4 linked regions of the Homo sapiens genome follow. The protein of the gene in region 1 interacts with the protein of each later gene in a pairwise test. Each region holds a gene or a part of one and is shown in the gene's direction. Other genes may lie near its edges. The genes, in order: KRT20, PRC1, WASHC1 and ZC3H14.

Region 1 (3,498 bases):
TCTCCTTCTCCCTAAGTGCCTTTCTGTTATCTAAAGAGAGTCTTGTGTCTACCCTTGGTGATTCTCCAAGTAATTCTCCACGTTCATTCAAGTGCCTGCAAGTGTATGACCCAAGTTCCAGGGGTGACTCTTGATGATTTCTGGCTTGCCAGTGTTTTACAGGATGGTCTGGCCAACCAAAGAACCAGGACCAATCTATAATAATTAGCTGGGCGTGATGCCGTATGTCTGTAATCCCAGCTACTCCGGAGGCTGAGGCAGGAGAATCGCTTGAACCTGGGAGGCGGAGGTTTCAGTGAGCTGAGATCGTGCCATTGCACTGCAACCTGGGCAACAGACTGAGACCTTGTCTCAAAAAAAAAAAGGAAGAAAGAAAGAAAAGAAAAAGAAAGTAAAAATTGTGTTCACTTTCTTTGTAGTCATCACACCACATGTGACCAGACCTGTTCCTTGCAAACAGCTTCCACACTAAGGCCTCTTCATCCTGAATTTGTACAATGCATTAACACCAAAAAGCCCTTTGTGGTTAGAAGGGTAGCCTTTTAATGCTCCAAGGGATTAACAAGAAGGAAATAGGAAATCAAATCCAAAGATGAAAGCAGTAAAGGTGCATTACTTCCAATTTTACCTAGCACTGAGTGTCACATTGCAGTGTCATTTTTTAAAGTTGGATATTTTAGGAAACTGGGCAGGGCATGCATGATGGCTAACGCCTGTAATCCCAGCACTTTGAGAGGCTGAGGCAGGAGGCTCACTTGAGTCCTGGAGTTTGAGAACAGCTTGGGCAACGTGGCAAAACCACATCTCTATACAAAAATACAAAAAAAATTAGCTGGGCATGGTGGCATACATCTGCTGTCCCAGCTACTTGGGAGGCTGAGGTGAGAGGATTGCTTGAGCCCCAAAGGTTGAGGCTGCAGTGAGCCATGATCACACCATTGTACTCCAGCCTGAGTGACAGAGTGGGACCCTGTCTCAAATACACACACACACACACACACACACACACACACACAGTGTGTATGTAAGATTGTAGAGGAGGATGTAGAGCTGTTTGAGATAATTCACTTTGGATGTCTCTGTTCACAAAGTAATAAAAATAAATCGATCATGTACATTCATTAAGTAAAACTAACCATTATTTAATATCAATAATAAGAACCCTTTGCCAACACAATAATTAACACAATTTAATTTCTTATAAGATAAATTCTAGAATTTAGAAGTGTTCAAAATTATTTCAGATTGCCTTTTTACCAGTCACCCCAAATTATAGAGATTATATTATTGAGCACATTTTCTGACTCCTAGGTTCTTATGTAAATTTCATGATTGTGTAAAGGCAGACATTATAAAGTATTGAAATTGATCTCCTCATAAGCCACATTTAAAAACCTATCCCATTATATTAGATTCTCTCCTTATAATGGCTTCAGAAGGACCAGTTATCTCTGTACACTAATTAATTCACAGGTATGAGACTGAGAGAGGAATACGTCTAACAGTGGAAGCTGATCTCCAAGGCCTGAATAAGGTCTTTGATGACCTAACCCTACATAAAACAGATTTGGAGATTCAAATTGAAGAACTGAATAAAGACCTAGCTCTCCTCAAAAAGGAGCATCAGGAGGTGAGAAAATATTCAGAAGTGGTATTGGAAACAATGGAATGGTTCTATATAATACTAATAATAGGAGGAGCGGGAGAAACAGGAGAAGGGGGAAGAGTTGGTGGTGATAGTGACAGAGATGATGACGATGACAATAATGATACAAGCCCTACCTTCTTTTCATAATGTTGTTGTAAGTTAAATGACTTAGAGCAGCACCTGGACCACAATAAGCCCAACACAAGTTATTATTTTATATCTTTTTTACTTATTCCCAATGAAAGAGGTCATGAGACTCCTTATGTCTTTTCTGCCCAGCCTTATCTGAGAATGTGCTTCAGACTAAAATCAATCAGAAATTTCACTTTCATAGGAAGTCGATGGCCTACACAAGCATCTGGGCAACACTGTCAATGTGGAGGTTGATGCTGCTCCAGGCCTGAACCTTGGCGTCATCATGAATGAAATGAGGCAGAAGTATGAAGTCATGGCCCAGAAGAACCTTCAAGAGGCCAAAGAACAGTTTGAGAGACAGGTAACCACACAATTCTAAAGGGTGAGCAAACGTGTAGATGCTTTCCTCCAGAAACAGATAACTCATTTTCTTTTTCATTTGTTCATTCTTCCTTTCTCTTTCTGTCTTTTCTTTCTTATTTCCACCCCTCAACTATTTTTTTTTCACTCTTGGCACTGTAGACTGCAGTTCTGCAGCAACAGGTCACAGTGAATACTGAAGAATTAAAAGGAACTGAGGTTCAACTAACGGAGCTGAGACGCACCTCCCAGAGCCTTGAGATAGAACTCCAGTCCCATCTCAGCATGGTAAAGCATATCTAACTTCTCTTTCTCAATCTAGTATGTGTTTACCAAGGTCCTCTGTTAGGAACTATAGAAATGCAAAGACCTACAAGAAATAACCCTTCCCCTTGCAGAACTGGCAGGGAAACAGGCCGAACAACTGATTATAATTAAAGGACAGAGAGAAATCGAGGAAAGGGCAATGTACTGCATGAATGCAGAGGAAAGAGTAAATCTGGAAGATTTCACAGGGAAAGTGGCATTTAAACCAGATCTTCTTGTAACTTTTAAGTTCAGGAGTACATGTGCAGATTTATGATGTAGTTAAACTTGTGTCATGGGGATTTGTTGTACAGGTTATTTCATCACTCAGGTATTAAACCTAATACCCATTGGTTATTTTTCCTGATCCTCTCCCTCCTCCTACCCTCCACCCTCTGTTAGGCCCCCATGTCTGCTATTCCCCTGTATGTGTCCATTATACCAGATCTCAAAATCTAAGATAAAATTTTAAGATGGAGAATGGACTAGAGACATTCCAGGCCAAGCAAATCAGCAAGCCCATGACAAATTATGTTGTGGTAAGCAGAATCCCTCAAACCACAGTGGCCTGCAGCCATGATACTACATCCACCGTGACATTTCCTTTCCAAGGGCAAGGCTAAAGGGGTAGGCCCTACCTAGGACATGCCAGTGTCCTGGCAGAAAGAAAAGAGCAATGGTTGGTCCACTTGATAGCTCTTAAAGCTTCTCCTTAGAAAAGGCATTTGTCCTTTGGGAGGCCAAGGCAGGAGGATCATTTGAGGTCAGGAGGTTGAGACCAGCTGGCCAATATGGTGAAACCCCATCTCTACTAAAGATACAAAAATAAGCTGGGCATGGTGGTGTGTGCCTGTAATCCCAGCTACTTGGGAGGTTGAGGCAGGAGAATCGCTTGAACCCAGGAGGCAGAGGTTGCAGTGAGCTGCGATCACATTACTGCACTCCAGCCTGGGCGACAGAGCAAGACTCCGTCCCAAAAAAAAAAAGAAAAAGAAAAGGCATTTGTCAGTTTGACCTGCATTTTATTAACCAAAGAGAGTCACATGACC
Region 2 (3,571 bases), on another chromosome or scaffold:
GAGTGAGAAATGTTAGTTTTTAATTTGAAAATGATCCTCTTACAGGAAGTGTCTCTAACTAGAATAATAATAATGGGTGTTTGGTAATTCCAAACACCCATTTCCAACAGGCCAAATAAAATACGTTATATATTAGTAAAATTTTTATTTCTTTTTTTTTTTGGAGACAGTCTTGCTCTGTTGCCCAGGCTGGAGTGCAATGGCATGATCTCAGCTCACTGCAACCTCCGCCTCCTGGGTTCACCGGGTTCAAGTGATTCTCCTGCCTCAGCCTCCTGAGTATCTGGGATTACAGGCACCCACTACCACGCCCAGCTAATTTTTGTATTTCTAGTAGAGATGGGGTTTCACCATGTTGGCCAGGCTGGTCTCGAGCTCCTGATCTCAGGTGATCCGCCCGCCTTGGCCTCCCAAAGTGCTGGGATTGCACACGAGCCACCGCGCCCGGCCATAGTAAAAATCTGTAAGTTTTTCAATTAAGTCACAAATCAAAAACATTTCAGATTATGGGCCGGGCACAGTGGCTCACGCCTGTAATCCCAGCACTTTGGGAGGCCGAGGCGGTCGGATCACGAGGTCAGGAGTTTGAGACCAGCCTGACCAACATGGTGAAACCCCGTCTCTACTAAAAATACAAAAATTAGCCGGGCGTGGTGCCGTGTGCCTGTAGTCCCAGCTACTCAGGAGGCTGAGGCAGGAGAATCGCTTGATCCCAGAAGGCAGAGGTTGCAGTGAGCTGAGATCACACCATTGCACTCCGGCCTGGGTGCCAGACTGAGACTCTGTCTCAAAAAAAGAAAAAAAAAAGAAACCAAAAATGTTTTAGATTATGTGCCAAGATGTTTTTAATAACAGCTTTGAGGTATAATCCACATACCATACAATGTACTTAAATTGTATATTATAATTCAGTGATTTTTAGAATATTCAGAGTTGTGCAATCATCACTGCAATCAATTTTAGAACATTTTTATCACCCCTTTAAAATCCCATTAGCAGTCAATCCCCTTTCACCCCATGGTCCAAATTCTCCCCAGCCGCAACTACAAATCTACTTTTCGGCTAGGCAAGGTGGCGCACACCTATAATTCCAGCACTTTGGGAGCCCAAGGTGGGAGGACTACTTGAGCCCAGGAGTTCAAGAACAGCTTGGGCAACATAGAGAGACTCTACCTCTTAAAAAAAAAAAAAAAATTATTTATTTATTTATTTATTTATTTTATTTTTTATTTTATTTTATTTTATTTTTTGAGATGGAGTCTCACTCTGTCACCCAGGCTGGAGTGCAGTGACGTGATCTCAGGTCACTGCAACCTCCACCTCCCGGATTCAAGCAATTCTCCTGCCTCAGCCTCCCGAGTAGCTGAGATTACAGGTGCCCACCACCACACCCAGCTAATTTTTGTATTTTTAGTAGAGACGGGGTTTCACCATATTGGCCAGGCTGGTCTCAAACTCCTGACCTCGTGATCCGCCGGTCTTGGCACCCAAAGTGCTGGGATTACAGGAGTGATCCACCGCACCCGGCCTAAAAAAAAATTTTATTGTTTAAGTTAGCTGGGTGTGGTGGCTCACATCTGTAGTCCCAGCTACTCCGGAGGCTCAGGTGGGAGGATCACCTGAGCCTAGGAAGTTGGGGCTGCAGTGAGCCATGATCATGTTACTGCACTCCAGCCTAGGTGAAAGAGGGAGACCCTGTCTCAAAAAACCATACAAACCCCAAATCTACTTTTTACCTATTCTGGATATTTCATAAAAACGGAACCGTAGCTCTGGTCTTTTGTGACTTGCTTCTTTGACTTAACATAATGTTTTCAAGGTTTATTGCCAAATAATATTCCATTGTATGCCTATATACTACATTTTATTTACCCATTCATAAGTTGATGGCCATTTGTATTTTTTTTTTCACTTTTTGGCTATTATAAGTAATGCTGCTATAAACAGTTGTGTAGTTTTTGTATAAATGTGTTTTCATTTCTTTTGGGCAAATACCCAGTAATAAAATTGCTGAGTTGTATGAACTCTGTTAAACTGAGGGGCCGGGTGCAGTGGCTCATGTCTGTTATCCCAACACTTTGGGAGGCCGAGGTGGGAGGATTGCTTGGGCCCAGGAGTTCAAGACCAGCCTGAGCAACATGGCAAACCTTAAAAAAAAAAAAAAAAAAAAAAATTAGCCAAGCACGATGGCACGTCTATGGTCCCAGCTACTTGGGAGACTAAGGTAGGAGAATTGCTTGAGCCCAGGGCGTTGAGGCTGCGTTGAGCTATGATCACACCACTGCACTCCAGCCCAGGTGACAGTGAGGCCCTGTCTCAAAAAACAAAAAATCAATTGAGGAACTACCAGACTATTTTCCAAAGAGGCTGTACCGTCTTGCATGCCCACAAGCAGTGTCTGAGGGTTCTAGTTCCTCTAGATTCTCACCAATACTTTTTGCTATATATTTTTTTTTATTATACCATCCTGTTGGCTATGAAGTGGTTTTGATTTGCATTTCCCTAATGACTAATATTGAGCATCTTTTCATGTGCTTATTGGCCATTTTTATATCTTCTTTGGAGAAATGTCTATTCAGATTCTTTGCCCATTGTGCTAGATTTTTTTACTCAGAAAAACGATCACTTTACCTTCTAGATGTGTTACAGAGATAGGCAGCCCTGCTTGTAAACCTTCGTCAGGATCCAGAGTGCATAATACCTCTATTAGGTTAGGTAGGTTAGGAGCATAGGACCCTTTGGGAGGAATTCAGGGCCATTCATTTTATATCTATTGAACAACTACTGTGAGTTAGGGTGTGGTAAAATGAAGATGAATAAGATGTGGTGGTCCTTGCCCTTGAGTTTATGGTCTACTAGGGGGCTTGGGGGGAATGGTGAGTGACAAGTCCACAGCTCTCCAGAGGAGGTGGTGGCATATAGACGGAACTGAATGTACAAAGCGCGGTGGCATCAGAAAATGAGAGTTGCATGTGGTTTATTGAGGGGCATTGTTCAGGAAATGCCCGGGAAGTTCAGCTGGCCAGAGACCTGGGGAGTGTCAAGTGGGAGAGATTAGCAGACAGACTCGGAGAGAGGTTTTAGAAGGCCTTTCTACAGAAGGTGGTTGAACTATTTCCTGAGGGCAGTGGAGCCTTTGAAGGGGAGTAGTTAAGCGGGGATCTGATGGGATTTATTATGAACAACTAGCTGTTATGTGGAGATTGGCTGGGCAGGGGTAGGTCTGTCAGACTGAGGAGACTGGGATACTTAAGTAATGACCTTCAGAGCAGTGCCCCTGGCTGGCCTGTCTGGAAGCCAGGGTTTTGCATCCAGATCGAATATTGGCCACAGATTGGATCTTAAAAGTTATTTTTAATAAAATGGTAATATTAGGATTTTAACTTGTGCATTCTTTTGTCTTCAAAATGAAGTGCAAAAGGAGTGTTTGCCTGGGGAAGCTCTTTAGTTGGACTTTAGTTGAGATTATGTTAAATAAATGCCTTACTTACTGTTAACATTTCTCTTTTTTTCCTTTAAGTTCTGTTGGACTTGAACTGTTAACATTTCTAAAGTGAAGGGAGTACCGTAA
Region 3 (2,793 bases), on another chromosome or scaffold:
CCTTTCCTCATGAACCCCAGTCGCGCCTCTGCCTTCTCAAACCCCTCCACCATCCCACACCCTCCTCCTGCCCTTCCTCATGAACCCCAGTCGCGCCTCTGCCTTCTCATCCCTGCGCACCACACAGGCTCGCTCGTGCCCGGTGAGTGCTGAGGCTGCTCTGCACGTGGAGTATGGCCCTGTGGGCAAGGGCTGGGCTCTTGGAGGTAGGGGAGCTACAGGGGCGACTGGGAGGAGGATGTTGTGTTACACACGCATCAGAGTTAACTTTGCAGTGAGAGCGGCCTTGCTGCGGCCAAAGAACATGGAAAAGCATGAGTGGGGTGATGTGCCTTAAAGCATCAGACACTTGGGCCTCGGGCATCAGGAGCCAGCCACAGGGATGTCTGGGGAAATGGCGTTCCATGAGATGCAAGCACACAAGAATGCACTTGGCACATCTGGGGAACAGCAGGCAGCTGATATCACTGGGCCCACCCCGCACCAGGGAGGATGGAAGCAGGTGAGGAGCTAGACCACACTGAGGCGGTGGTCGGGACTCGGGGTTTGCTCAGTGAGCCGTTCACTATGTGCAGGGGCAGTTCCCCGTCTGAATTTAGGTGACGACACTCAGGTCCAGCCTTGCCAGTCTCAGCCTCCGGTCTCCGTTCCCCCTCTGCAGAGGCCACATTGTCTGCTGCACGTGATCATGAGGGGTTGTGAAGTGCTTGCCCCATCAGTAGCCATGTGTGCATGTGTAAATACCATCCTCTGTGTGCCCTGGAGGCTGTCCTTCAGATAGCATGTACAGGTGGCAGCATAGGGCCTGTCCCTTCTGAGAGTGCAGGGAACTCAGCACCGTCAACTCCTCGACCCTGCAGGTCAGATTATCCTTGTAGAGGCCCCCTGGATGGCACCAAGATCGGCCCTGGCAAGTAGGTGACCCTGACTTCAGAGCCCTTGCCTGAGGGCCTGGCCTGGCAGCTCTGCTGTTAGAAGCAGGAGGTGTGCAGAGGGTGGGGAGCAGCCCAGCCTCTGTGATCTTCTCCATGGCAGGATCTCCCAGCAGGTAGAGCAGAGCCGGAGCCAGGTGCAGGCCATTGGAGAGAAGGTCTCCTTGGCCCAGGCCAAGATTGAGAAGATCAAGGGCAGCAAGAAGGCCATCAAGGTAGTCCCCATACCCCTGTGTCCTGAGGCTACTGGGCAGTCCCTCCATTTCCCCGTGCCTCTGAGGCTGCCCAGTCTCTGCCCTGCTGCCCACCTGTACCTTGAGCTTTCTTCTCGCCCAGGCTTCCAACTCCACCCTCTCCTGCCAAGCAATCCTAGCCCTCTGAGCCTCTTGGGGCCCCCTCAGACTTGTCCCTGTGTCCACAGGTGTTCTCCAGTGCCAAGTACCCTGCTCCAGGGCGCCTGCAGGAATATGGCTCCATCTTCACGGGCGCCCAGGACCCTGGCCTGCAGAGACGCCCCCGCCACAGGATCCAGAGCAAGCACCGCCCCCTGGACGAGCGGGCCCTGCAGGTCTGCTGGCCGCGCATATAGCCTGTCACACACCAGGAGGACTGGATACTGGGGAGGAGCCGGGGCCACCATAGGGTTCTGTCCCCCAGAGGAGGCTGACTGGGATGGGATGGCAGCTGATTAGGCCCAGCACCAAATATTCACCATCCCTTGGCCATCCTGGCCCTCTCAGGAGAAGCTGAAGGACTTTCCTGTGTGCGTGAGCACCAAGCCGGAGCCCGAGGACGATGCAGAAGAGGGACTTGGGGGTCTTCCCAGCAACATCAGCTCTGTCAGCTCCTTGCTGCTCTTCAACACCACCGAGAACCTGTATGGCCAGAGGGCAGGGCCGAGGGGTGTGGGCGGGAGGCCCGGCCTGGCTTAGTGGGGACCCAGGGCATCAGACACAGGTACAGCACATAGGCCAGGAGCCAGGGGGTGACTGGGGTGGCTCGGCTCGGGAGGCCTGGGACCCCACAGTGCACACTGTGCCCCTGATGATGTGGGAGAGGAACATGGGCTCAGGACAGCGGGTGTCAGCTTGCCTGACCCCCATGTCGCCTCCGTAGGTACAAGAAGTATGTCTTCCTGGACCCCCTGGCTGGTGCTGTAACAAAGACCCATGTGATGCTGGGGGCAGAGACAGAGGAGAAGCTGTTTGATGCCCCCTTGTCCATCAGCAAGAGAGAGCAGCTGGAACAGCAGGTGGGAGGGGTGGGACAGAGGTGGAGACAGGTGCAGTGGCCCAGGGCCTTGCCAGAGCTCCTCTCCAGTCAAGGCTGTTGGGCCCCTTATTCCACCCATGGGAGGTGCACACAAGGTCTTGTTGGCTGCCCCTGCAGGTCCCTGTCACCTCTCACATGTCCCTGCCTAATCTTGCAGGTCCCAGAGAACTACTTCTATGTGCCAGACCTGGGCCAGGTGCCTGAGATCCATGTTCCATCCTACCTGCCTGACCTGCCCGGCATTGCCAACGACCTCATGTACAGTGCCGACCTGGGCCCCGGCATTGCCCCCTCTGCCCCTGGCACCATTCCAGAACTGCCCACCTTCCACACTGAGGTAGCCGAGCCTCTCAAGGTAGGTGAGCTGGGTTCTGGGATGGGAGCTGGGCCGGGGACCTCCCTGCTCACACACCTTCTTCCCTAGACACCCCACACTTTGTGTTTCAGACCTACAAGATGGGGTACTAACACCACCCCCACCGCCCCCACCACCACCCCCAGCTCCTGAGGTGCTGGCCAGTGCACCCCCACTCCCACCCTCAACCGCGGCCCCTGTAGGCCAAGGCGCCAGGCAGGACGACAGCAGCAG
Region 4 (3,571 bases), on another chromosome or scaffold:
TTTCTCCGAGTCTCTCTCCTTGTTTATTCCTGCTTGTTCCTTTACTGCTGACTTCAGATGTTCCTCCTTGCTAAGCTTTTCGTTGGTTCTTGGCTGGAGTGGGCTGTTCTGTATTCTCAGCACCTTGTTCACATCCCTTTTGGGTCATGCTATTCTGAAATTGTATATGTGTCTGTTTTTCTTTTTTTCTTTGTGTATCTAGCTCAGTTCTCTTAGTTGTTCAGTAAATACTCAGTGAATGAACATAAATGAATACCCTGTAAATTTTGGTCTCTAAGCTTTAAAAGAAGTGTATTAACTTCAGTCCGTTGATGGCGTATTGATAGGTCAGCCATTCTGGGTTGTAGGTCTTGGCATATTTTATAAAATAGTAGATGATGTGAGCTTATGGTTATTTGCATTAAAGGCCAGTGTTTTTCTTGATACATATGTTTAAGTGTCCATTCACCTTTCAGTTACCTTTTAAAGTAGTCCTCGGTTTATAACCAACTGGAAATTATACCACTTGAATTCTTTTTATCAGGACATGATTCTAAGTGGTACTGTGCGAAGTGAACAAACCAGATTTTGGAAAAGTGGTTCAGCAGTCTGTGTATTCTAATTATAGGGAGCATTAGGACTCAAATTCTCCAGGTTTTTAGAAAAGATTTTTGTACTTTAAGGGTATATTGTTAATATCTGTTGAGATGCCTCACCTGAGAACCTTTCTCTGCTGTGGTTAGGGAGTGTTAATCAGAATCACTTGTGCCGTGCCCTACGCGAGAAGGACTCCTTGAGTTCTTTGAAAACATGTTTGGAATAGAATTATAGCCCTGTTTTCCTGAGTGGAACCAGTTGTGATTTTCCTTTGAAATAATTTGAATATATAAAAGATTGACATTCTTCTCACATATATAATGTTGGGAATGTAAGGTATATTCAAAAGTAAACATTTGTGGCCAATTTTTTTGGCTCAGATTACTATGACATGGAATCCATGGTCCATGCAGACACAAGATCATTTATTCTGAAGAAGCCAAAGCTGTCTGAGGAAGTAGTAGTGGCACCAAACCAAGAGTCGGGGATGAAGACTGCAGATTCCCTTCGGGTACTTTCAGGACACCTTATGCAGACACGGTAGATGGTTTCTTTTTCTTGTGTAGTTAATTTGTGTGATTAGATAGTAAAGGTTAACCATTCGTTTGCAGCTTCCCTCCTCCCCGCCCTAACCGCTAGCGTAGAGTGCTTTCATTGATTCAGTAGCTAGCCCATGAATAGTTAGCCAAATTCAGTTTTCAAGAATTCCAGTTCATCTTTCTTGTTCAGAAATCCATTAACCTACAAATTACAACTCAGTGTATGATTTAACTCTATTAAAGATTCTTTTCTTTATGCAAATTCAGGAAATGCAAGTTTAAAAGCCAGCTGACCATAATCAGGTCAGCTCTAAAGAGAGTTGGCAGATCAGGTTTGGGTGATTTTTCCCTTAGAAAATTGACTGTTTCTATAAAAGAAGAAACATACAGATAATTAGCATAAATGCTGCTGGCCCTTGTGTTCTGAGCATTGATGCTAATTTTTTGGTTTGTTTCCATGTTGACCCTATGAAGATCGAATGGGTGATGGGGTCAGGCTTGAGGGGAGATTGTCCTTAGTAAGTACAGGCTGGAGGGTCACTGGTGATGCCACTGTGACTGTTCATGGCCATCGTGTGTTAGCAGAGAACCCACCAGTGCTGCACCTGGTAGCCCTACCTAGTCTTTTTTTATTGAACCAAACGCAAAGCCAAGGGAGTGATAGTTCTGCTGAAGAGCACTTTAGGGGGCTCAGCGTTTTGTGTTTGTTTCCCTAATTCTATGGTATTTTTTATCTGTCTGGCAGAGATCTTGTACAACCAGATAAACCTGCAAGTCCCAAGTTTATAGTGACGCTGGATGGTGTCCCCAGCCCCCCAGGATACATGTCAGATCAAGAGGAGGACATGTGCTTTGAAGGAATGAAACCCGTAAACCAAACTGCAGCCTCAAACAAGGGACTCAGAGGTCTCCTCCACCCACAGCAGTTGCACTTGCTGAGCAGGCAGCTTGAGGACCCAAATGGTAGCTTTTCTAACGGTGTGTTGAGAGCTCAGATTTTCAGGGTGCTGTCATTGTGAAGGGAATCTTTGACTTGTTTCTCTACCTTGAATGAATATTGGTTAAAGGCCTTGCTTTTATTTATATTCAGTAATGGCCTTTTTTCTTCTTTCAGACAAACCCACCAAGTACATTTCAGACTCTTTTTCCTGTGTCTTTTTCATAGGTGGGCTGTTACTCCAGTTTGAAAACGGAGTTCAGCCATGGAACCTGAGAGACCTCTTCCGCTTATGCTGGCTAAAGGATGAACCACCATTCTTGTTGCCTTCTTTACCTTTGTATTTTCTTCAGAAACTGTACTGCCACTTTGCCCTTTTATCAGCAATAGTCTCTTGCAATTAACTTGAGAGAAAAATTTAGATTTGATGCTATTTCTACCTCAGTGAAATTTCTTTGAAAGGAGTTTCTCACCTAATCTATCAAGATCTTGGAACTGTTTAAATTAATGTTGAAGAGTAATATTTAGCAGAACTCAGATGAACTCATTTCAGATAGCACCATAGTTTTTGGCAGGTGACAGTTTCTTATCACCGTTTCTTTCACTGGGTATCAGTGGTAGCTGCAACGCCACTGATCATTTCCATTCATGATAGAGAATGGTAATTATGTTCCTTATATCTTCTAAAATATTTAGAAGCACCTCTTCATTGGCAGGAGGGATAATTACTCAATCTTAAAAGCGTACAGATTCAAAGGAAAAACAGTAATGGATTTTGAAACATTTCCTTGAGTAATCCTCTTCTTGGAAGAGATATGAAAATGTATTGAATACCTTTCTCGATCATTAAAAATAGAATAGACTTCAGAGGGAAATCATATGTTAGTGGAGCAATAACACTTAGCTTTATTTTAATTGGTTGCGTTTCCTACTGTGAATCAATGACGTAGTGTCGTGGTTTTGATTAGTGGAGGGAGTTGAAAATCTGACCCTATCAACAGGAAGAAAAACTTAAAAAATAGTAAAAGCTGCAGTAGGCAGTCCCGATTTATTGACTCTGTATGTTTTGTCTAAAGAGAAGACTCCAGTGTTTTCACTACTCTTGATTTTCAATTTGGTACCTTAATTTTTTGGTCTATTAGGATCTGGTTTCATTTAAATGTAGGTGTCCATATGAGGCTTTATGGGGTATACATGTAGCAGCAGTGACACCATAAATAATATGTTAGTAAAAATTCTTGCCAGTGCTGTGGCCATTGTGCTGACAGCCATGATGAGTGGTGAGCCTCCTTTCCCATTGCTTTGACTGGGGACTCAGTGTTTCCCTGCTGCTCAAGGATGAAGCTTTGTAAGATTAGCATAGGGGTGTGGCTGGAGAGACTCCTGCAGAACAGTTCTCAGGAGTCTCTAGTCTCTGCACCACTTCCCCTGTGAGCAGGGAGTTTGAAACTGCAATTGCTTCTGGTTGGTTTTATGTTGGGTTGTTTCAAGGATGCTACCAACAACAACATCTGTTTTA

What was found.
Region 2: the proteins of KRT20 (region 1) and PRC1 interact in a two-hybrid assay, tested with the Homo sapiens proteins (one large-scale study listed by BioGRID and IntAct).
Region 3: the proteins of KRT20 (region 1) and WASHC1 interact in a two-hybrid assay, tested with the Homo sapiens proteins (one large-scale study listed by BioGRID).
Region 4: the proteins of KRT20 (region 1) and ZC3H14 interact in a two-hybrid assay, tested with the Homo sapiens proteins (one large-scale study listed by BioGRID and IntAct).

What each region holds. Positions count from the first base shown.
Region 1 is NC_000017.11:40,878,746-40,882,243, reverse strand, and holds part of KRT20 (keratin, type I cytoskeletal 20 precursor), read left to right. Parts: intron 1-1,473; coding exon 1,474-1,630; intron 1,631-1,982; coding exon 1,983-2,144; intron 2,145-2,305; coding exon 2,306-2,431; intron 2,432-3,498. UniProt on the Homo sapiens protein: Plays a significant role in maintaining keratin filament organization in intestinal epithelia. When phosphorylated, plays a role in the secretion of mucin in the small intestine.
Region 2 is NC_000015.10:90,988,015-90,991,585, reverse strand, and holds part of PRC1 (protein regulator of cytokinesis 1), read left to right. Parts: intron 1-2,961; exon of another isoform or gene 2,962-3,571. UniProt on the Homo sapiens protein: Key regulator of cytokinesis that cross-links antiparrallel microtubules at an average distance of 35 nM. Essential for controlling the spatiotemporal formation of the midzone and successful cytokinesis.
Region 3 is NC_000009.12:16,735-19,527, reverse strand, and holds part of WASHC1 (WASH complex subunit 1), read left to right. Parts: exon of another isoform or gene 1-382; coding exon of another isoform or gene 383-502; intron 503-1,035; coding exon 1,036-1,147; intron 1,148-1,353; coding exon 1,354-1,500; intron 1,501-1,672; coding exon 1,673-1,809; intron 1,810-2,048; coding exon 2,049-2,184; intron 2,185-2,361; coding exon 2,362-2,563; intron 2,564-2,651; coding exon 2,652-2,793. UniProt on the Homo sapiens protein: Acts as a component of the WASH core complex that functions as a nucleation-promoting factor (NPF) at the surface of endosomes, where it recruits and activates the Arp2/3 complex to induce actin polymerization, playing a key role in the fission of tubules that serve as transport intermediates during endosome sorting.
Region 4 is NC_000014.9:88,600,968-88,604,538, forward strand, and holds part of ZC3H14 (zinc finger CCCH domain-containing protein 14), read left to right. Parts: intron 1-956; coding exon 957-1,116; intron 1,117-1,860; coding exon 1,861-2,093; intron 2,094-3,571. UniProt on the Homo sapiens protein: RNA-binding protein involved in the biogenesis of circular RNAs (circRNAs), which are produced by back-splicing circularization of pre-mRNAs.